Homo sapiens: one gene and its partners. The protein of the gene in region 3 interacts with the protein of the main gene of each other region in a pairwise test. Each region holds a gene or a part of one and is shown on either strand. Other genes may lie near its edges.

Evidence for each region.
Region 1: the proteins of HIBADH (region 3) and UBIAD1 interact in binary tests that used the Homo sapiens proteins (3 or more experiments, as listed by UniProt).
Region 2: the proteins of HIBADH (region 3) and ERMP1 interact in binary tests that used the Homo sapiens proteins (3 or more experiments, as listed by UniProt).
Region 4: the proteins of HIBADH (region 3) and GOSR2 interact in binary tests that used the Homo sapiens proteins (3 or more experiments, as listed by UniProt).
Region 5: the proteins of HIBADH (region 3) and AGTRAP interact in binary tests that used the Homo sapiens proteins (3 or more experiments, as listed by UniProt).
Region 6: the proteins of HIBADH (region 3) and C2CD2L interact in binary tests that used the Homo sapiens proteins (3 or more experiments, as listed by UniProt).
Region 7: the proteins of HIBADH (region 3) and SEC22B interact in binary tests that used the Homo sapiens proteins (3 or more experiments, as listed by UniProt).

The regions. Positions count from the first base shown.
Region 1 is NC_000001.11:11,282,841-11,286,537, reverse strand, and holds part of UBIAD1 (ubiA prenyltransferase domain-containing protein 1), read right to left. Parts: intron 895-3,697; coding exon 407-894; 3' UTR 1-406. UniProt on the Homo sapiens protein: Prenyltransferase that mediates the formation of menaquinone-4 (MK-4) and coenzyme Q10. MK-4 is a vitamin K2 isoform present at high concentrations in the brain, kidney and pancreas, and is required for endothelial cell development.
Region 2 is NC_000009.12:5,812,404-5,816,732, forward strand, and holds part of ERMP1 (endoplasmic reticulum metallopeptidase 1), read right to left. Parts: intron 633-4,329; coding exon 486-632; intron 1-485. UniProt on the Homo sapiens protein: Within the ovary, required for the organization of somatic cells and oocytes into discrete follicular structures.
Region 3 is NC_000007.14:27,540,423-27,544,751, forward strand, and holds part of HIBADH (3-hydroxyisobutyrate dehydrogenase, mitochondrial isoform 1 precursor), read right to left. Parts: intron 2,679-4,329; coding exon 2,545-2,678; intron 1-2,544.
Region 4 is NC_000017.11:46,932,686-46,937,014, reverse strand, and holds part of GOSR2 (Golgi SNAP receptor complex member 2), read right to left. Parts: intron 1,987-4,329; coding exon 1,846-1,986; coding exon of another isoform or gene 1,735-1,845; exon of another isoform or gene 193-1,734; intron 1-192. UniProt on the Homo sapiens protein: Involved in transport of proteins from the cis/medial-Golgi to the trans-Golgi network.
Region 5 is NC_000001.11:11,742,013-11,746,341, reverse strand, and holds part of AGTRAP (type-1 angiotensin II receptor-associated protein), read right to left. Parts: intron 1,810-4,329; coding exon of another isoform or gene 1,774-1,809; intron 540-1,773; coding exon 505-539; intron 216-504; coding exon of another isoform or gene 119-215; intron 1-118. UniProt on the Homo sapiens protein: Appears to be a negative regulator of type-1 angiotensin II receptor-mediated signaling by regulating receptor internalization as well as mechanism of receptor desensitization such as phosphorylation.
Region 6 is NC_000011.10:119,110,122-119,114,450, reverse strand, and holds part of C2CD2L (phospholipid transfer protein C2CD2L), read right to left. Parts: coding exon 4,252-4,329; intron 3,891-4,251; coding exon 3,771-3,890; intron 3,605-3,770; coding exon 3,494-3,604; intron 3,400-3,493; coding exon 3,283-3,399; intron 3,189-3,282; coding exon 3,077-3,188; intron 2,931-3,076; coding exon 2,822-2,930; intron 2,124-2,821; coding exon 2,059-2,123; intron 1,970-2,058; coding exon 1,842-1,969; intron 1,752-1,841; coding exon 1,577-1,751; intron 841-1,576; coding exon 739-840; intron 600-738; coding exon of another isoform or gene 597-599; coding exon 463-596; intron 372-462; coding exon 86-371; intron 1-85.
Region 7 is NC_000001.11:120,169,602-120,173,930, forward strand, and holds part of SEC22B (vesicle-trafficking protein SEC22b), read right to left. Parts: intron 1-4,329. UniProt on the Homo sapiens protein: SNARE involved in targeting and fusion of ER-derived transport vesicles with the Golgi complex as well as Golgi-derived retrograde transport vesicles with the ER.

The DNA of each region.
Region 1 (3,697 bases), on a different chromosome or scaffold from region 3:
AACACTCTGCCTAGTTATTAGGGTCTTTTCGGGACAGGAGGCCAAACTGGGCAGCTCCTTTACAAAGTCTGGAGACATTTTGTACAGAACAAGGAGGAACTAAGTCCACTTCACTGCAAAGTGACCTGAGAACACCCTCTAGTGGAAATTATTAATAAAACAAAGACCATGCGCCTAATTCACCTTCTGATACAAGAATGGTTTTTAAATTCCCCATAAAATGGAAAAAACAAAAAACAGAAAAACAACATATTATCTTTAAGAACACAAAAACAATTTTTATAAGGCAGGAGTTCCCACCCATGCTTAGTACCCTGACTGCCAAATCACATTCCTTCCTCAGAGACTCTGACTTTAATATATTCTAAGAAAGGGAGACATGTCGTGGGGGGAGCTACTTGTCCCCTTAAATTTTGGGCAGACTGCCTGCTGGTGCCAGAATGATGCCAAAGACATAGAAAAGTCCCAGCAGGAGGTTGAGCTTGGCAGTCCTCTGGGGCAGTTTGTTGAAGGCCTGGCTTCGAAACTGTCTCTCAAGGGAGAAGGCCATGGGAATGGTAAGCAGGGGGAGTGCCAGGCTGATGGTGCAGTGTGTGGCCAGGATGCTGAAGACCAGGTAGGGCAGGAAGAGCAGTGTGTTGTAGAGAATGTAGGAGAACGTGGGGCCGATGAGGATGGCCAGCGTGACGATACCAGCCTCCCGGTCGGACTCCATGTCCCTGGTGTTGTTGGAATGGAGAATGGCCTCGGTGCTGAGGGCGAGGGGGATGGCATAGACCAGTGGGAAGATGGCCAGGGACCCCACCTGGATGGCGTAGGCGAACATCACAGCCAGCGGGCCAAAAGTGATGAGGATGATGAGGTCTCCCAGAGCCACGTACTTGAATCCAATTCCTGCGGCCAGAAAATCCAGAGAGTTGGTGTGAGACCAAGGCTGGAAATTTAGGGACTGTTCACCAGTGAAGAGGCAGGCCACTTCCGGCTGAAAATGGTAAATCCTTAGACTGTGCAGGTGGGCACTCATTTCATCCCTTAACCCCACAGAGCAAATTCTGATTTCTTCTCCAATGCCACAGGTGCAGAGAGAATGCCCAGTGAGGCCTCAAGTCCCTCTTCCCAGGTTCATACCCAAGTTTCCCTTCCTACTGTCCCCCAACAGAGCTCTGCAACATAGCACACTAGGCACCCACTATACTCTTAGTTCAATGGGAGAGCCCAGGAAGGATCTAAAGGTCTTAGAATCCAGTTCTTTGCTATCTTTCACCCTTCACCAACCCCTGCAAGACCCCGTGAGATCAATCCCTCACAGAATAGCCACTCTGGCCTTCTACTTTTCCACCTCCTTCCCCTACAATCTCAAGGCATCTTCTGGTTTTAAAAACGGCCAGTGAATTTCAGTGAAATTTCGGGGTCCTTAAACCTGCACCCCTGCGATAAGCAAAACAGCGAGGACAGGAGAGTTATAATGCTGCTTTCCTCCTCTGTCTCCTATGAGATTGAAACTAAACCACCCCTACCTCCTGTTTCTGTCCTGCTCATCTACTTCAAAGCCTGTCTAACCCACTTCCTTCAAAACTATCCATTCTCTCCATCCCCGGGGCCACCCTCCATCCCCCTTACCAAATCTACCTCATGGTCATCTTATGCCTGGGATACTGCAACATCCTCCAAACTGGTCTATCAGCTTCCCCTCTCATAACCCCTCCCCCTCTCCATCCCTAATCTAATCTCTAAAAAGGCGTTAGAGTGAACCTTTAAAAATAGGAATCTGGCTGGGTGGGCACAGTGGCTCACACCTGTAATCCCAGCACTCTGGGAGGCCAAGGCGGGCAGATTACCTGAGGTCAGGACTTCCAGATCAGCCTGGCCAACAGGGTGAAACCCCATCTCTACTAAAAATACAAAAATTAGCCAAGCGTGTGGCACACGCCTGTAATCCCAGCTACTCGGGAGGCTGAGGCAGGGAAAATGCTTGAGCCTTGGAGGCAGAGGTTGCAGTAAGCCAAGATCATGCTACTGCACTCCAGCCTGGCAGACAGAGCAAGACTCTGTCTCAAAAAAATTAGTAAATAAATAAATAAAGGAATCTGACCACCCCCTCCCCCAACATACACTTAAACCCTTATCAACCACTCATCCTGGGGATAAAAGTCCCAGATCTTTAACCTGGCTCACCTGTGGCCCAGCCCTACCTCTCCTGCCTCACCTTGAGCTCTCCTCCCCTCTTCACACAGACTTCTTCCAATCCGTCAGAGCCTTCAGACACCCCTCCCTTGGCCTGGCTAACTCTACTCACCCTTTAAGACTTTAAAGACCATTCCCCAGGACCACCTCCTCTCACCCCTAAGCCACATTTGATCCCCTTGCAATATGCTCCCATGGCAATATGCCTGCCATGTTCATAAACTTCATCATGCTTCTAATTAATCTCCACCTTTCTCACTAAACTGTAAGTTCCATGAGGGCAGGACATGTGTCTGGCTTGGTCACAGCTCACTCCCCAATACTTGGCACAAGGGCTGAACTGAAGACAGAGCTACAGTAACAAGCACCTGGAATTTGGGATCAAGGTCAGGAAAGATCTCCCACTCAGACTGAAACAGGTAAAGCAGTATGGAATGAGTGGAGCTGCCCACTGAGGGAGGTGACCCATGCAATTATTGCTACAGAAGCTTAGCAAACTCCAGTTCTAACCAAGCTACAAGATGTGGACTCAAGATCAGAAAATAAAGCTCTGGTTAGGCATTTTAACCAGTCTAAAATGACAGAAGTTCCCACTAGCCACAGGAATCAAAATGAAATAAAATGACAGGAGCTAAGGAACAAGATCCAGTCCAAGTTCACCTTCACATCAGCAGCTGGGGTCCCTTGGTGCTAAATACACACCCTTAGTTCTTCAGAACAAAGTATCTCCAGGGAAGGGCATTAAGGCATGGCCACTGACACTCTTCAACATTCAGCAAGCTAATTCTGCACCCTCAAGCCATATTTTTTTTCCTTCTATTTGGATAATTTTTATACCAAGCCATGTTTTCATAAATAATTTGGTTGTATGAGGACATGCCCTCCAGGAGGAAGTTCCCTCAAGCAGAGCACGAGCTCCAGTTCAGAATTAGTAAATTGACGTCTCTTCCAATATCTCACACATTTAAGGGACTACACCCACGCAAAGATGATGCTGGGCAGGAATACTCCCAGCACAGACCTAGCCAGTTCCTCTACAGCTGCCCACTCTTGCTGTGCTTGTTTTCTCAGCTCCCCAAGTGACGCCACTGGTCTGGCTGTGAAAGAAAATGCAACAGCACTACAGCCTTGACCTTTGGCTGGAGTCTCCAAGAACACCTCCTTAGATCACTCGGCAAAAAGCAATGTAAGCGGCCAGGTATGGTGGCTCACGCCTGTAATCCCAGCACTTTGGGAGGCTGAAGCAGGTGGATCACCTGAGGTCAGGGGTTCGAGACCAGCCTGACCAACATGGAGAAACCCCATCTCCACTAAAAATACAAAAAATTAGCCGGGTGTAGTGGCGCATGTCTGTAATCCCAGCTACTCGGGAGGCTGAGGCAGAAGAACCGCTTGAACCCTGGAGGCAGAGGATGTGGTGAGCCGAGATCGTGCCATTGCACTCCAGCCTGGGCAACAAGAGCAAAACTCCGTCTCAAGAAAAAAAAAGGCCAGGCACAGTGGCTCACGCTGT
Region 2 (4,329 bases), on a different chromosome or scaffold from region 3:
ATAATTCGATACATAATGATTGAAGAAGTATATTACTCCACAGGTAGGCATTACAAGTCACACAGCAAGGATAGGAATATTGAGTTTGGGAGGTCATGAAAATTTTGCCACCTACATTCTTGCCAGGCCAGAGCCAAATTTTAACTTCAAATAAGTTGTACATACAAGTTGCCAAGGGAGTTGGCAAACCAAGACAACAACGAAAGACCCCTGAAGGATCTATTACCATCTTTTGGGAATGAGGTGCTAAACAGTTCACCCCTGTTCTTCTATGGGGAAAGATGACATATTTTAGAGGAGGCCAGCATTTAAATTAGTATGGAGTTTAAAAAAGGAAACAAACTCTGTTTTAGTGAGTCAATGTATATTTCTCACATAAAGAATTTGATCTCAGAAAATGCTGTTTACTCACATACTTTCAAGATTTAAAATTTGCTTTTGATAAATAAATGCTGCACAGTAGGCCGTAACCATTGACAATATACCTGGAATGTTCCCAAAATCCCTGTAGATACGAAAGTCAGTATCTGAAGGAATGATTCCACTCTGAAAAACCTCCTGAGCCACCACAGAAGCAAAAGGGTGTTTAGCTGCTGAAACATAAGCTTGAACCAACCAAGGATTTTCAGGACCTAAAATGAAAGATGACAACACAATAGAAGGTATTCCGGCAATTTTTTTTAACATACTAATGTTTTTCAACACATAGAAAACAGTAAAAGTGGTGGTTTTGGGAGACGGGTCCAATATGTACCTTTTCATCCCTTTTTCTGTAGTTTCCAATGTTTCTCTGATATATGTGTTTGACTTTTAGAATAAAAACCTTTTGTGAAAATAAAGTATAAAATAACAGCAATACAAAAGTCTGTCTGAAAATGAAAGATCATTCATAAATCTATCATCCTAAAATGCCTATTATCAATTGTATATCTTTAATTTTCTTACTAATGTAGAATTGTGTGTATATAGCTGTACTCAAGATATATATACTTTGTACATTTGTTTTCACTTAACATTATATTAAATGCATTTTCCTATGTTGCTAGATACAAATTGGGTATACCTTATCTGAAATGCTTGGGATCAGAAGTATTTTGGATTTTTTACTTTTTCGGATTTTGGAATATCTGCATTATACTAGTAAGCATCCCTAATCCTAAAATCCAAAATCAGAAATGCTCCAATGAACATTTTTGAGCATCATGTCAGTGCTCAAAAAGTTGTGAATTGTGGAGCATTATGGATTTCAAATTTTCAGATTAGGGATGCTCAATCTGTATTATAATAATCATTTTGATAACTGCTTAACATTTCACTGAATATGCCATAAAGTTCCTTGTTACTTTTTATAATTTATCATTATTAATAATTTTCCATCTGTATCTCATACATCTACAGCTTTTTCAAATGGGAGTTTTTCCTGTAGGATAGTGGGATACATTGTTTTATAATTTATATAATTATATAATTATACGTATATTTATATAATTATAATTATATAATTATATGTATAATTGTATAATTATTCACTCTTCCCTCGCTGAAAAAGGATTATACATTCCTACTCTTGCCACATACCTTGTAATGCCTGCCTGGGGAATGAGTACATACTCTTCTGTACCTATTAACTGCAGGCGTGGCTACATGACTTGCTCTAGCCAACAGACTGTGAGGAGGAATGACATGACCCTCAACTGGGCAGAGTTTTCAAAGGCATTAACATCATTCATACTTATCCTTAACTTTGATTTGTGAGATCAATACATCCCTTATAGGGGCTTCTCCTTCAGCCTGGATCCCAGAATGAATAAGACACATGGAACATAATAACCGTGGACCATAACTGCAGTTATTCAGAAACCAAAATGCAACACGAGCAAGAAATAAGCCTTTGCTGTTGTAAACCACCAAGATTTTGGGGTTGTTACCACAAAACTTAGCAACATATTGACTGATGTAAACAGACCAAGTAACTGAATGTCAGGGAATCTAAGAATATTGTTTTTTTAACTTCACAGATTATAAAATTGCTTTCCTACATTTTAAAAAATGACCAAGGCTGGGTGCAGTGGCTCACGCATATAATCCCAGCACTTTAGGAGGCCGAGGTGGGCAGAGCACCTGAGGTCAGGCATTTAAGACCAGCCTGGCCAACATGGCAAAACCCCACCTCTACTAAAAATACAAAAATAAGCAGGGCATGGTAATCCCAGCTGCTCAGGAGGCTGAGGCAGGAGAATTGCTTAGACCTGTGAGGTGAAGGCTGCACTGAGCCAAGATTGTGCCACTGCACTCCAGCCTGGGTGACAGAGTGAGACTCCATCTGAAAAAATAAAAATTAAAAATTAAAAATGACCCAAAAAAGCAGAGGGACCCTATAGAAACAGACATACAAGTAATCCAGATACTGGAGTTACCAGACACAGATTCTAAAATAATTATGATTAATATGTTTTAAAAAACACAGATATCAGTAATTTCACCAGACAAGTATAATCTATTTAAAAGAGTCCTACAAATGGAAATCCTAGAATGAAAAAACATAACTGATGTTGCGAATTTTAATAAATGGGCTTAACACAAAGTTTAATACAGCAGAAGAAAGGATTAAAATTAAAGCATAAAAAGAAAAAAAGGTTGGAAAATACACAAATGTGAGTAATTGGAGTCCCAAAAGAACAGAAGATAGAATGGAGAAGATAAATGTTTAAAGACTTAATGGCCAAGAATCTTCCAAAACTCATAGAATTCAAGCCACGAATTCAAAAAGGTCTACAAACCCCAAACAAGATAAATATAAAGAAAAACTGTATCTGGCACCATTTACTTTTGAATACTATTCCCCACCAAAAGAAACCAAGCCTCCTTAGAGAAATGGCTGATTCCAGGTCTGGGACTAGCAAAGTACAAGGTAAGTTGAAACATCTGTGCCAGAAAGTAAGAAAGTGATCAAAAAGACATGTCAAAGGGGCTCAGGCACTGATTTGAAATAGACACCACTGGCCTAAACTGGGACAATTCATGCAACAAAATAAACAATAGTAACAGAATATATAGAGTAAAATTAAAATACATAAAGTACTGAAATAACAAAAAAAAAAAAAAAAAAAGGAAAATGGAAAGCCTTCCTTCTTGCAGAATTCCAACTATGACCTACAGGCAGAATGATGGAACCAGAAACTCAGCAGTAGCATTTGGTAAACATTGTAATAAAAATGCTTGGGGACAAGAGTCATCAATGATTGCTAAAACTAGGATCAAAGTTTTATGACAAACAGGATATTTACCTAAAGTATCTATCACTAAGGGGAAATCAGTAACTTGTACAAAGAAAGAAATAGTAGAAAAACCTGGCAAATAAATACCTTAATCAAACGATGAAAATGTAGTATCATTAATAATGAGACAAACAGATACCACATGCATCCTGATGTGATGCACTGAGGACACAAATACAAAAGGAAAAAGAACTATGATGATGGGGAAATACGTACATTACGAGATCTTATCATATTAAAATACTATTATTAAAATATTACTATTTGATATTAAGAAATTTATGCTAAAAAATACAATGAAAACCATACTGAAAAACAGGTAAAGCCAAACTATCATTAATTATCTTAAAACTTAGGATAATAGTTCCTCTTAGATGGGAGGGAGTTGTATTTGAGAAGAGAGGTTAAAAAAAATGCCTAGGCAGGCAAGGCAATCCACCCTCTTCCATGAGACAGAGTTAAAAAGATTTTCACCTTACAATAATTAAGTTTTCAACTTTATAATTAAATGCTATATTTGATCCTGGGTAGGAACCCAGATTTTTTTTTAAATGGTTAGGACATTAATGGAACAACTGGAAAAATCTGAATATGCATTATTATAGTTTAATATTAATATTTCTTGAGTGTGATCAATGTTCTGTTACAGAAGAGCATGTCCCTGTTTATCTGAGATGATCATCCTGAGATTATCAATTGACATGATTTTTCTCTTTATTCTGATAATGTAGTGAATTACACAGATTGATTTTCAAATATTATACCATCCTGTTGATCAACTTGGTTGGAAAGTATTATCTTTTGTATATATAAATATTCCTGGATTCAGTTTGCTAATACTTAATTTAGGACTTTTGCATCTAAAGTTGGTATTACCTACCCAAAATATCTACCAAAGCTGAACATATACACATCTTATGACCCAGCGATTCCACTCAGAAATGTGCATACACATACATGTGTACCAAAAGACATTTACGAGAATGTTCACAGCAGCACCATTCATAGCAAAAACCTGGAAACAACATAACAGCACCAACGGAATGGATCA
Region 3 (4,329 bases):
TTCATACACTCCCCACCTTTTTTGCCATATGCACAATCTCTTTAGTGATTTCCTTGATTGGCCCTGCCATAAATCCTGTGAAGTCTTGCACAACATCTGGACAGTTTTTTCCAGCAGGAATTTACTGTTAGGGGCTTGATGGCCTTCAAGGCGTTTTCCACAATAACAATGGCATCTTCAATGGTGTAATCTTTCCAGATTTTCATGTTCTATCAGGGTTTTCTTCCACAGTGACAATCCTTCCCATAGAGTACCATGTGTAATGAGCCTTAAAGGTCCTTATGATCCCCTACTCTAGAGGCTGAATTAGGGGCGTTATGTTTAGGGGCAAGTTGGCCCCTTGGACACCTTCAGTGTTGAACTCATGTTATTCTGGGTGGCCAGGGGTACTGTCCAATATCAAAATAACTTTAAAAGTCAGTCCCTTACTGGCAAGATATTGCCTGACTCCAGAGACAAAGCCATTGATGGAAACAATCCAGAAACAGGGTTCTCATCGTCCAGGCCTTCTTGCTGTACAACCAAAAGACAGGCAGCTGGTATTTATCTTTTCACTTAAAGCCTCAGAAGTTAGCAACTTTATAGATAAGGGCAGTCCTGATTTTCAACCCAACTGCATTTGTACAAAACAGTAGAGTTAGCCTATCCTTTCCTGCCTTAAATCCTGGTGCTGCTTGCTTCTCTTCCTAATAAATGTCCTTCGAGCATCCTTTTTTTTTTTTTTTTCTCCGTAATAGGGCACTTCTGTCTGCATTAAAAACTCATTCAGGCAGATATACTTTCTCTTCAATGATTTTTTCTTAATGGCGCCTGGGAACTGTCTGCTGTCTCTTGGTTGGCAGAAGCTACTTCGCCTATTTCTTGACATTTTTTAAGCAAACCTCTTCCTAAAATTATCAAACCATCCTTTGCTGGCATTAAATTCTCCAGCTTTAGATCCTTCACTTTCTTTTTGCTTTAAGTTGTCATATTTTTCTTGAATCATATTAGATGTAAGTATGCCTTTCTACAGCAATCCTGCATCTACATAAAAGCTGCATTTTCAATGTGAGATAAAAAGATGTTCTGCAAAAAGTGCAAGCCTGCTGGAGTAGCTGCAGTGATGGGTTCATGACTATTCTTTTCTTTGTTTACAATGGTCCTTACATTGGATTTGTTTATCTTGAAATGGAGGGCAAACGCAGCCGCAGACCTCAATCCATGGTATGTATCAGGCAATTCAACTTTTTCTTGTAATGTCATGACTTTTCTCAGCTTCTTAGGAGCACTTCCAGCATCACTAGTGGCACTTTGTATGGGTCCCATGGTGTCATTCAAGGTTTATGGTATTGCACTAAACATGATAAAAAAATACAAGAGAATTCCAAGAGATCAATTTTTACTATGATACACAATTTACTAAAGAGATGAACCACTCACACAAAGATGATTAGTGTCACATGACATTTTATGCTCAATACTTGTAACACTTGAGTTCACTGCAATAGCAACAGGTGGCCACAAAATTATTACAGTAGTACAGTATTACTAGAGTTAATTTTATGCCATTATGATTTAATGCATCTTTACATTTCTTTACATTTCTCTCAACTGTAAATGGTGCCATGTATGGTCTATAAATATTTGTAAACTTTGATAAATTTTAACTCTTTATAACAGATTTGTGCATATTTATAAACTAGTATCTATCTACATATATTTTATGCGTTCACGACATATCTAACTTTTTCTTAATGTTTTTGATATTTCTAGGCCATGTGGTTCATCTGTTTTTTCAAACTGTCACAAATCTTCAAAAAAATTTTCAATATATCTATGGAAAAAAAATAGATGTATAAGTGGGCCCATGGAGTTCAAATCTGTGTTGTTCAAGGGTCAACTGTAATTACAAAATTAGATGGAGGAAAATAGCAACTCAGAAACAAGCACTTCGAATAAGAGCAGTTTTAAGGATGATTTCACTAGTTGCTGGGATGACAGACATGTCAAGATCCTAATAATGAATTTTTTTTCCCGTTTTTTTTTTTTTTTTTTTTTTTTTTGAGATAGGTTCTTGCTCTATCACCCAGGCTGACTGCAGTGGCTCTATCATGGCTCACTGCAGCCTCAATCCCCCACCCCTGGGCTCAGGTGATCCCCCCACCTCAGCCTCCTAAGTAGCTGTGACTATAAGTGTGTGTCACCACACTCGACTAATTTTTTTGTTCTTTGTAGAGATGGGGTCTTACTATGTTGCCCTGGCTGGTGTCAAACTCCTGGGCTTGAGTGATCCTCCTGTCTCAGCCTCCCAAAGTGTTGGGATTACAGGCATGAGCCATCACGTCTGGCCAATAATGGAAGTTTTTTAAATAAGTAAATTGGCTGATGTCTGCTTAAGCCCACCAGGAATGATGCAAAACTAATTTATTCCAAATAAATGTTTTAAAATCTGAGCAAAGAATCCATAGGTTGAAGAAAGAAGAATAAAAATATGGTCAGGAAAGAGAAAGGAACATTAGTCAATTTTACATCATCAAGTCAAGGTCATTAATGTAAAAATCTTACCTGCCCAGTCCCAACAGCTCCACAGTACACCACGTTGGAGCCCATGCACCCCAGCAACTCTTGGGCAGCAGCAAATTCATCTTCAACTCCTCCCACCATAAACGTGAGGTTCCCAGATCGTGCAGCTCCTACACCTGAATCATTTGGGGGTAAAGGGATAGAAGCAAAAGAATATATTTCTTAAAATGTTTAGGCAGGTAATAAAATTAGAGAAACCAACTAAAAACATCCTGCCTCCAATCTGTATTTATGCCAGGCATGTATAAGATACTCTAAATCTCTACAGAAATATTCAGCAATCAAGTATCACCCAGATTAATCACAAACCAAGAGAGACATACAGATTCAGTTGTACTCTCAATCTCAACTCACCTTAATCATTTTGGCACAATCATGGCCTAACAGATAAGGGAACTTAAAATGTAAATGTTATTATTCCCATGCATCTATTATTCTCCTAAGAAACCTACTAAGTTATAGAAAGTATACAAAAAAAAAGTTTTACCTGGGCCCTGATCAGCAAAGGAGCAGCCAGAGAGAGGTCTGCTGCCCACGTTTGGATTCGGGGTTCTTGCTCACTCACCCACTCTCCAAATACTATCTATAAGTGAGATCTACAAAGAGGGAGACCTGGCTCTTTGTTCCTTAAACAAGTAGGCATTTCAGATGGTAGATTCTTTTTTTAAGGCAAGGAAAACTTTGCTTATTTTGACTGATTATTCTCATATGTACTTTTCAATATTATTTGATTTTTCTTTTCCTTCCTGCTATACATCTTTTGGGCAATTTATTTTTAGTGATATGAGCAAGAAGAAGAAATAAACTTTAACACTGACTTCACTACTCCTTAGTAGCTTTTAACAGAGGCTTAATGCATGTTCATTCATTCTAATGATTGGAGAAAGAACCTTCAATTTAGCACAGAAAATATAATCTAGACTTGTCCTAAAAGGGAGAGGAAAAGCTTCATTCATCTAAATTTTTATTAACTATAAAATAAAACCAAGAGCGCTATTACTGTTTTTAATATTGAAAGAAATCTTGATTCATAATTTTCAAGTTAGGCTTTATTTTTCAAAACTTCCCAGGCAAGTATGTGGAAGAACTTATTTTACAGTACAGTAAGAACAAAGAAACTGTAATTGTCTGTAGTATGTATCAAATCTGGCCATTAGACAGCTGCAGGTAATGGCCTGCTTTTGGATTTAATGTGTTCAATGAAATACAGTATTTATATATTTTTTAAAAGCCCAAGTGAAGAGATACCTATTTCATTCAAATTGTGAATATTTTGCTATTGTCAAATCAAATAGCTTTCTATTTTACAGTTTATACTATTCATAAGCAATTATTAAAAGCCAAAAAAGTCAGCATTATGCTAGCCAAACAATCTTGGAAGAGTGAGTGCCCACATGTTATGAAAACCTGAGATGCTCACACATATGGTTAAATTACACCATTTTACAATATCTTCACTTTGGATTATATACAAAAACCCAATTTATAAAAAATGCTTTCAATTAGCCAATCTATGTCATTCAAACATTCTTATAACATTAAAGTGACTGCTGTTTTGTTAGTTTCTAGTTTACTTTATCAAGATGGTAAACCATTAATGTTTTATAATTATTTCGCTCAATTTCTAGACATTTTTATTTAAACCATATAACCACCATTCCTCCTAATCCTGTTGATCTCACCTAGAGAAATTAAGTAGACGATTTAAGTCAAAGCTTACAAGCAAATCCAGCACTATCCATCATAGATCAATAGTTTTGCTTTGTA
Region 4 (4,329 bases), on a different chromosome or scaffold from region 3:
ATATGCATGGCATCTAACCTCATGCCCCATATCCTTTTTTTTTTTTTTTAATAAATACACATTAATGAGCAACTGAGAGAAACAAGGAAAGTGAGATCAACATTAGGCATCATGGACAGGAATCCAAAATCTACATTCTGCCCAGAAAGCAATTAAGAAGCCTCAGCCAGAGAAATTACAAGTCAAACTTCATTGCCATCAGAGATCAGAGAAATGTATTTGTATTTTTTTTTCCCCGAGATAGTGACAATACAATCAGACTCTTGCTAAAGTCCTGCTTGGCTCTGAACACACAGATTATTTCATCACTGTATGAGGCTAAGGATCAACCTTCTAAATCACTTGAAAATGACCATAAATTTCAAAAAATGTATTCATTTTCAGCCACAAATTGGCCCCAGTCATCAGAGTGCTTCAGCCTAGCCCCTTCATGCCCTCTCCTATGTTCCTTTTGAATGGTGTAGGTGGAAAATCCCGACGGAGGCAGGGTGTGAGGCAGGTGGAGGGAATCAAGAGACAAACACCAGGTAGCCACAGGTGTGCAGAGGAAAGTTAGAAACCTCAAGTCTCAACCCCCAGCCACCTCACAGCCTTCCCCTCTGGTATCAGTGTGGGTGGCAAGAGGTGTGCTGATGCCCCAGCGCTGCCAGACTTGAGTGGGAAGTTAGCATGTGCCTTAACAGGACGCTCTAACCCCCACTGGCTCTTCATCAGTGTGACATGGAGTTTGGTCCTAAAAGGCCTCTACTGTTTTTCTGAGATATGAAAAGGAGAGTAGCAGTTTTCTAAAGAAAGGGCAGACTAATCAACATGTATCAGTTCAGGTCACTGCAGGTGGCTCTCATGAAAGGGGAGCGCCCAGCAGGCTGCTGGAGACCACCCTTCCAGGCCATCTGAGACACTGCAACTGTCAGCAGGAGGTGAGTGTCACTTGCAGCTTGCCTGACCCTCTCCCCCGTAGAGATGGCAGGGACTGTTCAGAAACGTACTGAAGTCCTGTGGAGCTGACAGACTCAACATGATCCAACAAAAACTAAGATAAAGCTCACACTTCCGAGTGACTGTTTCTCACAGCTCAGTGGCTGGGAGTGCTTCATTCACAGGGGACCACACCCTGATAACAGACAGAACCCACGCCCTATTATCCATCAGGGTTGATACAGGAAAAGGGCAGAGGCTGAAACATCATGACTGACATCAGAGTCTGTGTAATGTTTCTGTAAACCACTCCCAGGGGCTGGAGTCTCAGCAGTGCCAACTGGTCAGGGCTTCTAGGAATACCTAAGGCTAGGGAGTGAAGAGTCGCTGGGATCACCAGCACGGGCTTTAGAAGCTCTAGAAGCTTCTAAAGCTCTAATCTACTGCAAACAACCAGGCAGCCCTAACACTGCACAGTGGGGATTCAGTTACTAAAATACAAAAGGTTTTAGTTATAAGGCAGTCCACAGTAGGGGTCCTAAGGGAAAGCCACCTTAAAGCGAGGTACCAAAGGACAGCCACGTCTTCATTCTTCCAAGAGTAGATTCTGTAACACAATTTCTCAGCCTGTGATTGGACCCCTCGTAGTAGCACTCACTTTCATGATAAGTTCAGTAAATGGGAAAAGACCTGGATCCTAAGAGAGGCCACTTCATGGTTTGTTTCAAGCACTGGCAAAGGAACTGGGTACTTTCAGGCTCACAATAACTCAACTCCAACAGAAAGGATCCCAAACTCAAGGGCTCTGTCTTGTCATCAAAATATCACAATTTGAGGACACGTAATCAAAATATAAACACAGTTACTAAACTGTTGGATGAGGCTAAAACAAGAGGCCTTCTCTCTGTCCCCCAGCAGGGACCCCACCTTCAAGGTCAGTCTCTGGGTCCTCAGTCCATCTAAAATATTGTGCCCATCTAAAATGAGGTCATCCATGCCGTTGTGAACTTTCTGGAGGGAGGAGTTAAACTGCAGTGATTCGTCCATTGGTATGGTGGTGTCAGAGTCCTGTGAAAGAAACACAGGCACTTGATTAACTTTGCTTATCAGTCAGTTCCTGGGGTCTCACTGCTCTGTCTTTTGGCCAAGGCCAAGCCAGAACAGCCGGAGGGGCTGGTGAAAGAATCAGCGGACCCTAATGGATAAGAAAAAGCAAAGCAAAGGCCTGGGGTGGCCTCTGTCCACACAGAAGAGGAACTTCCTCAGATCTGTCACTCTCCAAATGAGTTCCACTCCACAAGTATCGTTCATTCCAACGATACTTGTCTCTGTATCATGATCTCCTCTTAGGAAAAGCTATTCCTTCAAGACCTCATTGGGTGTCTCCTAAAGGCTTTCTCTGACTACTCACTAACCTAGCTGGTTCCAAATGTTCCTTTCCATGGCTTCCCCTTAATGCAGTGTTAAATGTTTGCTCGTGTCCTTTAGCTATTTTATCTATAGTTTACCTCTCCAAGTAGACTGAGAGTTAACTAAGGATAGAGGAGGCTGTGCTTCTGCATTTTCTTTTTTTTTGAGACAGGGTTTCCCTCTGTCACCCAGGGTGGAGTGCAGTGGCGCGATCTCAGCTCACTGCAACCTTAGCCTCCTGGACTCAAACAATTCTCCCACCTCAGCCTTCTGAGTAGCTGGGACCATAGGTGCATGCTACCATGCCCAGCTTTTTTCTTTCTTTCTTTCTCTTTTTTGTATTTTTGGTAGAGACAGGGTTTCACCATGTTGCTCAGGCTGGTCTCCAACTCCTGTGCTCAAGGAATCTGTCCACAGGCCTCCCCATTTTATAGATGAAAAAATGCCCAGAGAGGTAGAATAACTTGTCCAAGATCACACAGCTGGAAGTGTGTCCAGTGATCACAGAGCTGGAAGTCCAGTGGAGCTGGGAATGTGGGTACTGAGCGCAGGGCCTGCCCTGTTACCCACACTGTAGAGGGAAACACCAACGCCCATCCTGGTGGCTCTACTTTTGCTCTGAAAGTGGACTATAGGCAGGAGCCAAGTCCTCGCCAGCTGTGAGAGCGTTCCCTTCTCTTTTCTGCCAATCACAAGCTCTCCTGCCAAGTAGTGCTGGGGTTTGTTTCGTGTTTTTTTTTTTTTTGAGACAGGCTCTCACTCTGTCACCCAGGATAGAGAGCAGCCTTGACCTACCAGGCTTAAGTGATCTTCTCACCTCAGGCTCCAGAGAGTAGTTGGGACCACAGGCTCACGCCACCACGCCCGGCTAATTTTTATATTTTTTTGTAGAGACAATGTCTCACCATGTCACCCAGGATGGTGAACTCCTGAACAATCCACTGCCTTGGTCTCCCAAAGTGCTGGGATCACAGGCGTGTGTCATTGTGCCCTGCTCCACTAGTGCTGTTTTTACCACCTAAATTCCAGTTTCAATTGTCCAAAAAAAAAAAAAAGGTTATGCCACTGTTTCTTTGCTGCTCAGATTTGGAATCATTTTGCACATACGTGTTTTCAACTGCCCCTGCTAACAGGGGAGCTCCTCACAGATAGGCGTCAGGTCTTTTAATTTCATCATGTGCTTTACTCCTAGTGCCTGAATTAACTAGTTTTCTGCATGCAGCTAATGCCCAGTGTGTCAGAAGATGCTGGCGTTTGAAAGACTCAGAGACTTCTCTTCAGTAATTTGACTAGCACTTATGAAATGCCATTCACATACAAATCTTTCTTACCCTCCCATCTAAAACAGTATGGCTGATGGGCCATTATCTCTCAGAAAAATGTATTATAGCTCCATATGGTAGAATGACCAGGAAGAAGTTTCATCTGGCAAGTCAATGTTTATTAAGAACTGACGGTGTGCACAGCATCACGCCAGGCTGGCAAAAAACAAAATAATCCCAAGCGATCATCCTTGGCCTAAAAAAGGCCTGAATACTACATTATAACGATCTAAAATCCAAACATCTTTTAGTGTGTCTTATAGTTCATTAAATTTTTGAACTGTTAAACACTGTAACTTGACTGCTTAGTCTGGGGAAGCAAAAACTATGTTGGCACAGCCTGAAACACTTGGGAAAATTTATTGCAAAGCAAGGATGCAGCATTGAGGGTTAAACATCTACAAAGCAGGAAATGATGTGAATTTTAACAACTGGCTTAGAAAGCTAACATCTCTTTAGAAAATAATCCTCTGTAAAAAAACAAAATACAAAAAGCCAAAGCACACTTCATTTAGTGGAATATATTATGCAGGACACAGAAAAGGCCAGTATGTTCTACAGCCATGTGCAGGAAATGATCTGGTTAAGACTAAAGGGCAGGGACAATGGGTTCTGAAAAATCAAACATGCAAACCAACACACTTTCAGACAGACTCAGGCAAGCAGTCCATCTAACCCT
Region 5 (4,329 bases), on a different chromosome or scaffold from region 3:
TGGGTCCCAGCCCAGAATCACCAACTCAGAATCTTGGGGAAGTGTGACTAAGAAATCTGTATTTTGGCCCTGCTTCTCAAGGTCGTGAATCATGATGGTTACAGTTCACATTACTCACAGCTGTTGCCCTGTGCGCTGCACTTCGAAGTTTGCAAAGTGCACAGGTGAGCTCAATGGTTTCCAGTCTTGGTTTGGCAGAGAAATGTCTCCAGAAGCTCAACAGATTAAAAGAGATGGTAAAGGTGAAAATCAAGCTGCAGTGCTGAGGCCTCACTGTGGGGCAGGCCCTGGGGAGCTCTGATGAGCACTTCCACGTCTCCCTCCCAGCTCCTGCAGGGTGTGCAATCCTTATGCCTATTGTACAGACGGAAATCAAGACCCGGAGAGGCAGAGCTGTCTGGCCCAAAGTGACCTGGTTAAAACACGGCAGAACCAGGACCTGACCCGGCTGACACAGACCCTGAGACCGCAGGAGACACACAAGATACCCACAGAGTCACTTACCAGGTTGTCAGCAGCCAGTGACCTAGGAGAATCACCTGTGGCACAACAAGGGGGAGAGAAGAGGTCTGTGAACATGACCACCACAGGGGCAGGAAAGCGTCGGGTGCAGAAAACACAGGACGCCCCTGCGCCTGGCACCTCTGAGGGCCTCAGTAATGTCTGTTGAAAAGGCACACCAGCAACTGCAGGTGGCCCAGGAGTGAAGGAGGAGGAAGAAAGCAGGCCAGGCCAGGGAGGGGCCGCTTCATGCCTTCACCCCTCCCATGGGGCAGCTGACACCCACACCCCTTCCAAGCGTCAGAGGCGTATGAACCAGAGCAATTCCATCTTGAATAGGAGCTGGGTAAAATAAGGCTGAAACCTAGTGGGCTGCATTCCCAGATGGTTAAGGCATTCTAAGTCACAGGATGAGACAGGAGGTCAGCACAAGGTACAGGTCATAAAGACCTTGCTGACAAAACGGGTTACAGTAAAGAAGCCGGCTAAAACCCACCCAAATCAAGATGGCCACGAGAGTAACCTCTGGTTGTCCTCACTGCTACACTCCCACCAGCACTATGACAGTTTACAAATGCCATGGCAACGTCAGAAAGTTACCCTATATTGTCTAAAAAGGGGAGGCATGAATAATCCACCCCTTGGTTAGCATACTATCAAGAAATAACTATAAAAATGGGCAACCAGCCTGGGCGCGGTGGATCACACCTGTAATCCCAGCATTTTGGGAGGCCGAGGTGGGTGGATCACCTGAGGTCAGGAGTTCAGGACCAGCCTGGCCAACATGGTGAAACCCTGTCTCTACTAAAAATACAAAAATTAGCCGGGCATGGTGGTGTGTGCCTGTAATCCCAGCTACTCAGGAGGCTGAGACAGGAGAATTGCTTGAACCTGGGAGGTGGAGGTTGCAGGGAGCCGAGATTGTGCCATTGCACTCCAGCCTGGGCGACGAGAGAAACTCCATCTCAAAAATAAGTAAATTAATTAATTAATTAATTTTTTTAAAAAGGGCAACCAGCAGCCCTCAGGGATGCTCTGCCTATGGAGTAGCCATTCTTTTATTCCTTTACTTTCTTAATAAACTTGCTTTCACTTTACTCTATGGACTCGCCCTGAATTCTTCCTTGTGCGAGATCCAAGAACCCTCTCTTGGGGTCTGGATTGGGACCCCTTTCCTGTAACACAAGGGTGGGAGGCTCCTTTGTGGAATGCAGGGAATCTGCTCTGAAATCAGAAGAGGCCTCGATGGGAAGCGGAGCGGTGGGGACTCACGTGAGGGTGATTTCTTGGGACACTGGAGCTGGCGCACTGTGGGGGGCAGAGGGGAAAGCAGCTGTTGTGGCTGGAGAGAGCGGGCAAAGGGAGGGTAGCTGGGGACAGGTAGGGGGGCCTGAGGGCCTCGGGAAGGAGCGTGGGCTTCATGCCAAGTGCAACGAGGGACACCACTGAGACTTTTCTACAGGGAGATAGCTTGGTATGCCTTATGGTAAGGAAAAACAACAACAAAATCCCCCTGGCTATTTTTCTGGATTTCTGCAATATTCTACTTTTTTCTTTTTAAATTTGGAGACAGGGTCTTGCTCTGTGGGTCAGGCTGGAGTTCAGTGGCGCCATCACAGCTCACTGCAGCCTCAAACTCCTGGGCTTAAGTGATCCTCCTGCTTCAGCCTCCCCAGTAGCTGGGACTACAGGTGTGTACCACCACGCCCAGCTAATTTTTGTTTTTTTGTAGAGACAAGGTCTCCCTATGTTAACCAGGCTAGTCTCAAATTCCTGGGCTCAAGCAATCTACCCACCTTGGTCTCCCAAAGTGCTGGGATTACAGGCAGGAGCCACTGCACCCAGCTACAATATTTTACCCTTTTTAATGTCCTCTGTGTCCTTAAAATGACAGCCTCCTCTCCTGGAACTGGTCTCTACTCCGGGACATCAACAAGGCCCTGACTGGAAAGCACATAGAAAAAGGGCAGATGGAGGCTGGGCACAGTGGCTCACGCCTGTAATCCCAGAACTTTGGGAGGCTGAGGTGGGCAGATCACCTGAGGTCGGGAGTTCGAGATCAGCCTGACCAGCATGGAGAAACCCCGTTTCTACTAAAAATACAAAATTAGCCGGGCATGGTGGCACATGCCTGTAATCCCAGCCACTCAGAAGGCTGAGGCAGGAGAATCGCTTGAACCCAGGAGGCAGAGGTTGCAGTGGGCCGAGATCGCGCCATTGTACTCCAGCCTGGACAACAAGAACAAACCTCCGCCTCAAAAAAAAAAAAAAGGAAAGAAAGAAAAAGGGCAGATGGGCTGGGCGCGGTGGCTCACCCCTGTAATCCCAGCACTGTGGGAGGCCAAGGCAGGTGGATCACTTGAGGTCAGGAGTTCGAGACCAGCCTGGCTAACATGGCGAAACCCTGTCTCTACTAAAAAGACAAAAATTAGCTGGGCATGGTGGTGGGCACCTGTAATCCCAGCTACTCCGGAAGTTGAGGCACGAAAATTACTTGAACCTGGGAGGCAGAGGTTGCAGTGAGCCCAAAATGGGCCACAGCACTCCAGCTTGGGTGACAGAGTGAGACTCCATCTCAAAAAAAAAAAAAGAAAAGAAAAGACAGATGCCTTGGGAGGGCAGGCAGCTGCAGAAAGAGCTTCCAAAGGGAAGGGACCCAGGCTGAGCACAATGTATGAGCGGGGCTCGGCCAGGCAAAGTGGGGCCAAGCCCCAGGCCCTGCATGGGTGGCGGTGGGCATGGAGATAACTGAGGTCGGGGTGGGGTGGCACAGAGACTTTGGGAGGCCAGGAGCCCCAAATTGGGAGCTTCAACGGGCCTGGTGGTCAATGAGGGCCCTAGAAGTTTACTCAAGGGATTGAGGGGTCAGGCTGGAAGGGAGAGATGCCACATGCCTGGGGCAGAGGCAGTGTCCTGGCGCAGACATGGGCAAGGTTTGCGAAGAAGGCCGGGGTTTCTGGCCTGGGTGGAAGGGCAGAAGGAGCCCTCACCACCTGCAAAAAAGAACTGTGGGCCAGGTCTGGTGGCTCACGCCTGTAATCCCAACACTTTAGGAGGTGGAGGGAGAAGACTGCTTGAGCCCAGGAGTTCGAGAACAACCTGGCTAACAAAGTAAGATCCTATCTCTACAAAAAATCAAAAAATTAGCCAGGTATGGTGGAGTACATCTATAGCCCCAGCTACCTGGGAGGCTGAGGTGGGAGAATCACTTGAGCCAGTGAGGTCAAGTGTACAGTGAGCCAAGATCATGCCACTGCACTACAGCCTGGGGGACAGAGCAAGATCCTGCCAGAAAGAGAAAGTAAGGAAAGAAAGAAAAGAAAGAAAGAGAGAAAGAGAAGGAAGAAAGAAAGAAAAAGAAAGAAAAGGAAGGAAAGAAGGAAGGAAGGAAGGAAGGAACGAAGGAAGGGAAAGAAGGGAAAGAAAGGACAGAAAAGAAAGACAGACAAACTCACTCTGGCAGCAGAGGAAAAAGCATTTCTAGAAGAGTTACTCTTGACCACACACCAACTATGTGCCAGGCCCTATGCCAACCGTCTCACATGACCTTATCTGGACCTCACAGCAGCCTCTGGTACTATTATTCCCATTTCACAGATGAGAAAACCAGACTCAGAGATAAATTATGTTGATCAAGACTCCACAGGTAGCAAGTGGCAAAACTGGAATTAAATTTCAAACTCGCCTCCAAAACCAGTGCACCCAACCTCCCCGCTGGGGGCGCAGGCCTTCAGCTGGGAACTGTTTGGGCTTGTGAGAAAGGTCCACACATGGGGGCAGATGGAATCCAGAGCTGGTGGCTGAGATACTTCACCTTTACCTCCAGGG
Region 6 (4,329 bases), on a different chromosome or scaffold from region 3:
AGAAGGCACACTGGCTCGAGGTCCCCCAGGTCATGATATGTGTATAAAAGAAGAGATGAGGGGCACCCTGCCAACGTCCCCCTACCTTTGTGATCCTTGAGGCTGCGGGTCTCCAGGGCACCAGTGGACCCCGTTTCCGACTCAATATCATCCACAGATGGCCTCTCAGAAATATCCGAACGGGTTGTCTCGTCTGCTTCCTGGACACTTGTGGGACTAGAGAGGGCATCTAGCGGTCCTGGAGACATGGCTGGTGGGTCTGAGGGAGGTGAAGAGGGGCCTCCGCTGGTCCCTGCATCATCCTGCACTGAGGCTTCCAGGGATGCCGCATAGCCCAGGGATAGCGCCAACTCGTCCTGAGCAATGGGCACCTGGCAGGAGGGACGGGTTTTAATGGGCAGGAGTGACCGACCCATTAGGGCTTTCTCCCCATCCCAGCTCCTCTCCCCAGAGCCCTGTTACCTTGGAAACACCAGAGATGATGAGAGTGCTGCGCTTGGTGGGTGTCTTCTTGGCCACCCGCCCACTGGGCTCTGTCAGCTGGCGAATCGCTGTCTCTGCTACAGGGTCCAAGCCGTTGGAAAGGTGGCTGTCCCCTGCTAGGGGTGCAGAGAATGAATAACCTGACTTCTCCCTGGCTCTTTCTTGGATTGGAACTCCTCCTATCCCACCCAGAGTACTTTTTGATGCTGGGGCACCAGGGCCAACCCACACTCATGCACCCCATTCCCCACTCACGGCTGCTGCTATGGGAGGTATTGCTGGGGCCACTGCTCTCACTCAGCACAGTTGTCGTCTTCTCGGTCACCTCCACCTTGGACGGGGAGCGGGAGGGGGAGTCTGGTGGGTGGGGGAGGGTCAGTGAGCTGGGAGTTGCTTCAGAGTGGCCCCCACCCCTACTGTCTTTGTTGAGATGCAGACTTTGGGTGACTCAGAGGGCAAGAATGATTAAAGGGTGATTAATCACAAGGGTGATTAGGAAGATGCCGTGGGGACTAAAAGACACCCCAGGAGCTAATGGGAGTGTAGGAAAGTGCCATGGGGCCTGCTGAAGGTGTGGGGAGATGCTATGAAAATATGGAGCGGGGACAGAGGGGGTACTGGGGCTCCCTGAAGTTGGGGCAATTCAGTGGGGCCCCTATAATGGCAGAAGTGCCATGGGGGCCCACTGAGTGGGGTAGAAATGCCACAGAGGCCTCTGGGTTTGTTGGAGGACCCCAGGGGGTGCTGGAGGGCTGAGGGTAGCAGGATGGACAATTATAGTCAGCTGGGGCTAAGGACACCTGTGAAAAGCCAGAGGGGAAGCTGGAAGGTAGGAGTGCAACAGTCCTGTATGAGGAGGGGCAGGAGGATCCAGAAGGGTGGCAGAGTGAGAGGAATTGCTGGGGAAATGGCAGGAGGTAAGGGAAAGTTTGGAAGAGACAAAGATTGGGAGGAAGATGTGGTAGGACTGGAATGGAATGTCTGAAAACAGGGGGAGTTGGAATTAAGGCTCTCTCCTCTTTCACTGTCCTGCCTTGGGTCTGCAGTCCCGGGCCCCTGGCTAGAGCTGGGCTCCCAGGCTCCTTCTCTTTACCTAATTTGCCGTCTATACGGGGCCGGGACTGGACAGTGGTGACTGTGGTGACAATGGTGCCATCGGGCATGATGGTCCGGTCAAGCTCAATCTTCTTGGTAGGTGTGATGCTGGGGCGTGGAGTGGAGGAGGTGGGAGTACCCAGGTTCCGGGGAGAGCCCTCCTCATAGTGAAGCTGCCCAGGGGTGGGAGAGAGAAGAGACAGAGCCTCGGAGACTGCCCATCCCCTGTGTCCTCCCACCTACCCCAGGGGTCAGCTTCTCACCTCCACTGCCATGGTGGCTGCTGGTCCCAGGGCTTTCCCTGGCCCTGGGGTGAGTGGGCACAACTGTCTTCGAGACAGTGGTCTGGAGGGGGAGCCCACAGGCAGTGTGGCCTGGCCTAGGAGTTCGGCTGGGGAAAGGGATGGCACTGTGAGCTGGGCCCATGGCCAGACCCCACTCTGTACCCACCCAGGGGTGCCCCTCCCACCCCTCACTTACTGTCTCCACAGCTGCTGCTCCTCAGCACTTTGAGGGTCAGCTCCCGGCTCTGGGGGCCCAGATCCCTGTGGGACAAGAGGAGATGGGGCAGGAAGGAGAAAATTAGCAAGCTGAACCCACACTTGAGTGGATCACAGGCCAGAGGCAGAGAGCTGTGTACATAAATAAAACGGCATAAATGCTCCAATCAGATTCTCCTGGCCTCCAAATTCTCTCTCGTCCCAAGAGAAAGGGACAGGGCCTGAGTGGAAACCATGCTTCTCAGCTATGCATTCAAATCCTCCCTGGTCCTGCTCTTCCTGTCTTGCCAGTCTCTCAGTTGCAAGCCACCCTCTTTCATTTGCTCCAGCTCTTCCCTCTGCCGAGAATACTTTCACACTCTGATGAAATCCTACTCTTGCTCTAAAGTGTGGTTTAAATGTCATCTCCTCCATGAAGCCTACTCTGATCCTTATTCCCTCATGGGAATTAATCTCCCCCCCACCTAGGCACTCTGACGGCACATTACATAAACCTCAACTGGAGCGGTTTTACCATCTTCTTTATGTACACCTGTCTCTGCCTCAAGCTTGTCATTGACCCAGGGGTGGGGGCTGTATCTTGGTCAAGTCTGTATCCCTAAGACCCACGCCAGGGCCTGGCATACAATAGGAGCTCACGCCAAAGGCTACTGAAAACAGAGCTGATTCCTGCAAGGACTGTGCTGGAAAGGTTTGATCCTCTCTGCTCTGGAGCATGGGGTCGGGGCAGGGTTACTCCTTACAGTGCCAGGTCTTCTGTCCACTCCACCTCGGATCCAGCCCTCGCGGGCTTGGTCCACTTCTGCTGCATGGGGTTGTCGAGTTCAGCTACACAGCACAGTTCCTCGGTGCCTGTGATGAACCAGAAGTTAGAAGATGCTCAGATCAGAGATGGGAAGTCACTGCAGAATAAAGAGGCTGTACCCTTGGCAGAGGGGCAGAGAGCATCTGCAACCAACCATAGCCTTGGCAGTCCCGCAGCCACTTCCAGCTCTCACCTTCCAGCTCATTTCCCAAGTGAGATGCCCGAAGCTGCCGTAGGAATAACCGGTTAGGTCTGGGGATGGCTGGCTGAGCCTGGGGCATCATGGGTGGCTTCTCACTGGGTACCTAAGAGCAGAAGAAGGTCCAAAGAGCAAGAATCCTGACATAGCACCCTAGGAACAAGGTGCATGCAAATCTTTTGCTTTGGGTGCCAACTCACCAGGCCTCCTGGGGCAGAGCAAGCCCTGAGGTTGACCATCATGGCTGGCTGGGTGCTGACTATGGCATCCTTGATCAGTTCCTCAATTGTGGAGAGCTCCACTTGTTCTTCACCTCTCTGCAGAGAGAAGAAGGGAACAACAAGGAGGTGGATCCCCCACCTCTGCCTCCCTCCCCGTTCTGCCTCTTCTCTGCCAGCTCTGCCTCCTTACCTCCCTGGCCTGAAGCTTGGGAAGCACCGTTAGGCTGAGATCTGGGCGATCAGTGAAGGCCCAGGATATGAGCAGCCCCTCACCAGGGATTTCCTCCAGGTTGACTTCCAACTACAGACAGGAACAAAGTGACTGGGCTGACTTGCCCCATTTACCCAAGGACTCCTAATTCGAGGACTCTCCCTTCCTGAATTCCATCCCAGAGAGGAAACAAATGGAAGAAGCTGAGCCAATGGAACCGCCCCTGCCCAACTCAGTTTCCCACATCCCCTTCTACCTGTGTTGGTGGCAGTGTCAGAGTGACGTGGTAGGTCTCCATGGAGACGGCAGCGGGGGACTGCTGGGTCACAGAGACTGGGAACCGCACCTCCTCAGCAGAGAGCTGGCAACGCAGCACCTGAGACCGGCGAGGTGGGTCAGATGTGGGGGAAGGGTGCTCACCCTGCTTTGAACTGCCCTGTAATAGTTCAGCAGACCCCTCCCCACTTCCGTTTTCCTAAGGACTTCATGTTTTCAGGATCATAAATCCCTAAAAGAATCAGATAAATGCCAAAGACTCCTCTCCCCAGAAAAATGCATATAAACACACATCCAACATTTTGCACATAACTTCAATGGGATTCTCAGACTTCCTGAAACCAATCCTTAGATCCATAAGGCATTCACAGACTCCAGGTTAAGAACCTCTGGACTAAAGGGAGCCCTTGGGGTCAGTCCTTCTTGGACCCCAAAGAGGGCAGTGCCCATCAGACCCTTACCATGGTATGCTCAGATTGGTCTACGCAGGTCACATGACTGATGCTGGCTCTGGGTGGGAGTTGGGGCACCTCCTCAAA
Region 7 (4,329 bases), on a different chromosome or scaffold from region 3:
TGTTATAATTACAGGTAATATTTTCCTGAACAATTTCTAACTGCTTTTACAATTATTTTTGTTAAAAAGAGGGGGCAAATCTACTGGAAAAACCAGCAGTGTCATTTCAAAAGAAGAAAACCATGCATCTCCAATCTACTAGATCCAACAGGGAAAGGAAGTGCCTGAAGAATGGGAAGCAAATAGACATTGTTTTTCCATCCACATGTGGGGTAGGGGAGCTTTCTGCCAGCTACCCAGCTATAGTCTGAATGTTTGCTGGTATCCCCCACAAAATTCATGTTGAAATCCTAACCCCCCAAAGTGATGGTATTAAGAAGTGGGACCTTTGGGAGGTGATTAAGTCATGAGGGTAGAGCCCTCATGAATGTGATTAGTACCTTTATAAAAGAGACCCCAGAGGGCTAGCTTGCTCCATCCACCATGTGAGGAAACAGCCAGAAGGTGACATCTATGAACCAGGAATAGGCCCTCAATAGTCACCAAATCTGCTGGTGCTTGATCTTCACCTTGCAGAACTAGAAAAATCAATTTCTGTCATTTATAAGCCACCCAATTTATGGTATTTTGTATAGTAAACCAGACTAGGACACTGCCATGTGATGCAAAGAAATAATCCTATTTTGGAATTATTTATTTTACATAGAAAGAATAGCCTCCCTTTGGCAGATGTTTAATAACTAAATATTTAAGTAGAAAAGTATTTATGCTAGGGTCTCCCAGGATCTGAGGTCTAACTTTGATAAAGTACAAAGTGATATCTTAAAATTGTAGATAGTGTACTGCTAAGCTGATAATAAAAACAAGGAAGCAACAATAAAATGATAAAGTGGCAGATCAGCAAATGTACAATTACAGGATAATAAGATTCTAAGCTATATGTAAAAATGGTGAACTGGAAATTTCAATAAGAATAAGAAGGTGAATAAGCATGAGGTGAACCAGGGGAGATAGGCAGAGTCCAGTTGAGGTATTAGTTTGTAGATTTATCTTGTTTAATACCACTGTTATGGCAATTATTTGTTTTATTGACATATATTTGTTATATATTTGAGAAATAGTTCTATATTAACATATGTATGTCTGTATGTATGTACAGTTTTATATATTAAACAGTACTTTATAATAATTATATCAAAATTATCATATTAAACAGTACTACTAATATATGGCCAGCCAGTAAGAGTGAATACTGTCATATGCTTTTAGCCAATAAGAACTAGTGCACAATATTCTATTTTCCTAAATTTGAATGGTACTTACCAATCTTTTTGTTTCCCCAGTGCCATTCTGAAGAGATCTGAACCCACAAGAGTAGATAAAAAGCATGCAAATTTCTTTAATTTAATAAAATTAATTTATTAAATTTAATTTAATTTAAAATTCTTTAATAAAAAAAAGAAATATTTTTATTATTTCTTGGCTCAAGTGCCAAGAAATAATATCAACATAGATCGGTGATTTTCAACCTTGGCTTCACAATAGAATCATTTGGGGAAATCTCAAAAACAAAACTACTTATGCCCAGTCTCCACCACCAAACCAATTAAGTCAGCATCTCGGAGGTGGGGCTGTGATATCGGTATTTTTTACATAACTGCAACCACAGGTGTTAAATATATGTTCTTTGCTAAAGGCAGGTGAGAATCTTAAAAGGACTAGTTGAAGAAACATGGAAAAAATTGCCACTCAGATTGGTACAAATCCTTTGACTTTACAAGAGGCACTGTAAACATTACTGTAACCTGAGAAAAAGACTAACAACTGTATCAACTATAAGAAACTGGCCAAAAGCATTCTGCAATTTCAGGAATTTGCAAACAGCAATGTAAAGACTGCCAATATACAACACTGGGGATGTATTTATAGGGATTATGGTATGCCAACCAACACCTTACCATGCTGGTTCAGTTAGCATTACCATCCTCGAGAACACAATGCTAGCACAATCTTCATGGTTAAATAATAATCTTTCTGGCATATTCATACAATGGAATACTATGCAGCCATTAAAACAATGCTGTATAGAGTTTAATGATATGAGAAAATATTCATTAAACACTGTTAAGTGGAAAAAATTAGGTGAAACAGTCTTACGGTATTACCTATTATTTAATGTTATACACACATACATATGTTTAAGGTCATCCACCAAAATGGATATAATTTGAGTACAGATTATAGTTAATAAACACTGTTAACATTTTGGTCATTTTGCTTTTATGTATTTACTGAACTTTCTACAATATGCACAAATTAATTTTGTAATGTGAAAAATCATTCATTCATTACATATTTGCATCCAGTGTATCGATTATGTGCAATTCTGATCTGTGAACCTTTAAGAAAGGCAAGATGAGGCTGGGTATGGGGGTTCACGCCTGTAATCCCAGTACTTTGCGAGGCCAAGGCAGGTGGATCATGAGGTCAGGAGTTCAAGATCAGACTGGCCAAGATGCTGAAACCCCATCTCAACTAAAAATACAAAAATTAGCCGGGTAGGGTTGCAGGTGCCTGTAATCCCAGCTACTCGGGAGGCTGAAGCAGGAGAATCGTTTGAACCTGGGGACCGGAGGTTGCAGTAAGCTGAGATCACACCACTGCACTCTAGCCTGGGCAACAGAGTGAGACTCCATCTCAAAAAAAAAAAAAAGAAAGGCAAGATGGAATTAGAAAAGATTCTTCAGAAATGATCAAATGAAATTATTAAGTGTTCACTTTCTGCCAGCCACTGTTCTGAACACTTTACATTATTTAACTCGTTTATTCTTCATGAGGTGATTAGAATTATTATGTCAATTTTTTACTTGAGAAGTCAAACTTTTTAGCCTCTAAGCTAAAAAGGGAGGAACTAGGATCTGAATGCAGGCAATCTGGCCCTGGAGCCCCTACTCCTAAGCATTATGCTACCCTAACTCTATAATTGAAATTGTTTCAATAGTAGATCCACCTTTTAGGTGAAGTCTTACTATGTAATTCTAACTCATTGGAAATGCTCAAGAAACCATGGGGCAGCTCTGATCTAGATCTCACAAAACAACCTAACCACTGTTTTACATACTGACCTTTAGTTTGCTTTCAAGATCAAAGTCACAAAGGGCCCACAGTTAGCCAGTCCACCTAAAAATATTTAGATATCCTCATTGTGTTTTCTACTTCATCTAGAAAAGATTAATGAAATTTGTATATGATATAATTATGAGATATCTATTAGTAATCCAATAATGCAGTGGATCAGAATAACTGGAAAAACTGTGAAACAAATTTGAGGTTATCCAACAGCAAATGTAGGATTTGGATCTATATATTACAAAAGATAGAAGGTAGTAACTAGACACACAACCACAATACTTTTCGTTGCTGTCACCTAAGACTGCTGAACAACTAGTTGTATCAATAACAACTTTTGCCTTCATAGCTCTTTATCATTTTCATAGCTGAGTTCAGTGGGTATCAATACCCACTGAACTCAGCTGGTCAAAGACCAGCAGCACCAAGAACCAACCACTTTCCTCTAAAAGCAGTTACAGTAAGTGGATTAATCAACCCTCAGTGATTGGGAGCGTGAGACAATTTAACTGTATAACATGTTATCTATCTGCTTTCTTGGAGCTTCCTGCTGCCTATTTGGTGAGATCTAACACTTTCTTCAAGTCTGGACTGCCCTTCACGATGCCAGAGGAAAATGAAAGAAAATACAATAATTTTGAGGCAGAACAGAAAGGTAGATAAAGAAATTGCAAAAATCCTAAAAGGAGAAACATGCCATAAAAGGAATGAGGAAAAAAGATAAACAGGGTATCAGTTAGGGAGTCCACATTTGAGAAGAAAAGCTCATCTCTCTTCCTGCCCTAAGTCTAAATTTTCAGTTAAACACAGAGGAAACACCCTGTATAAAATACTCTGTCTACATTATTTTGTAAATTTTACTCTCTATTGTATTATCTGAATAACTGTCCATCTTCGGTAATATGGCAGCTTGTACAGGCACCTAGTAAATACCTAAAATATGATATCTATTATCAGTGTAAATACTGAAAGTACACTGATAAGAAAACAAAAACATACAAAAATGAAAATACATTGAATTATCTGGCCTGGACAATTAAGGTGATTAAATATAAAACTGTTTGGTTGAGATATCTGTTTATTAAAAAGTTATTCCTGGACTCCTAAGAGGTAAGACATCATTAAAAGGCCTTAGAACAAGGCAGTAAAGTACAGTGGTTAGGCACTAAAGTACAGTGGTTATTAAGTTTTTGTCTGAGTCGACAAAAACTTAATAAAAACCACTGGGTCTCAATTGGGGTGATTTTGCCCCCATGAGAC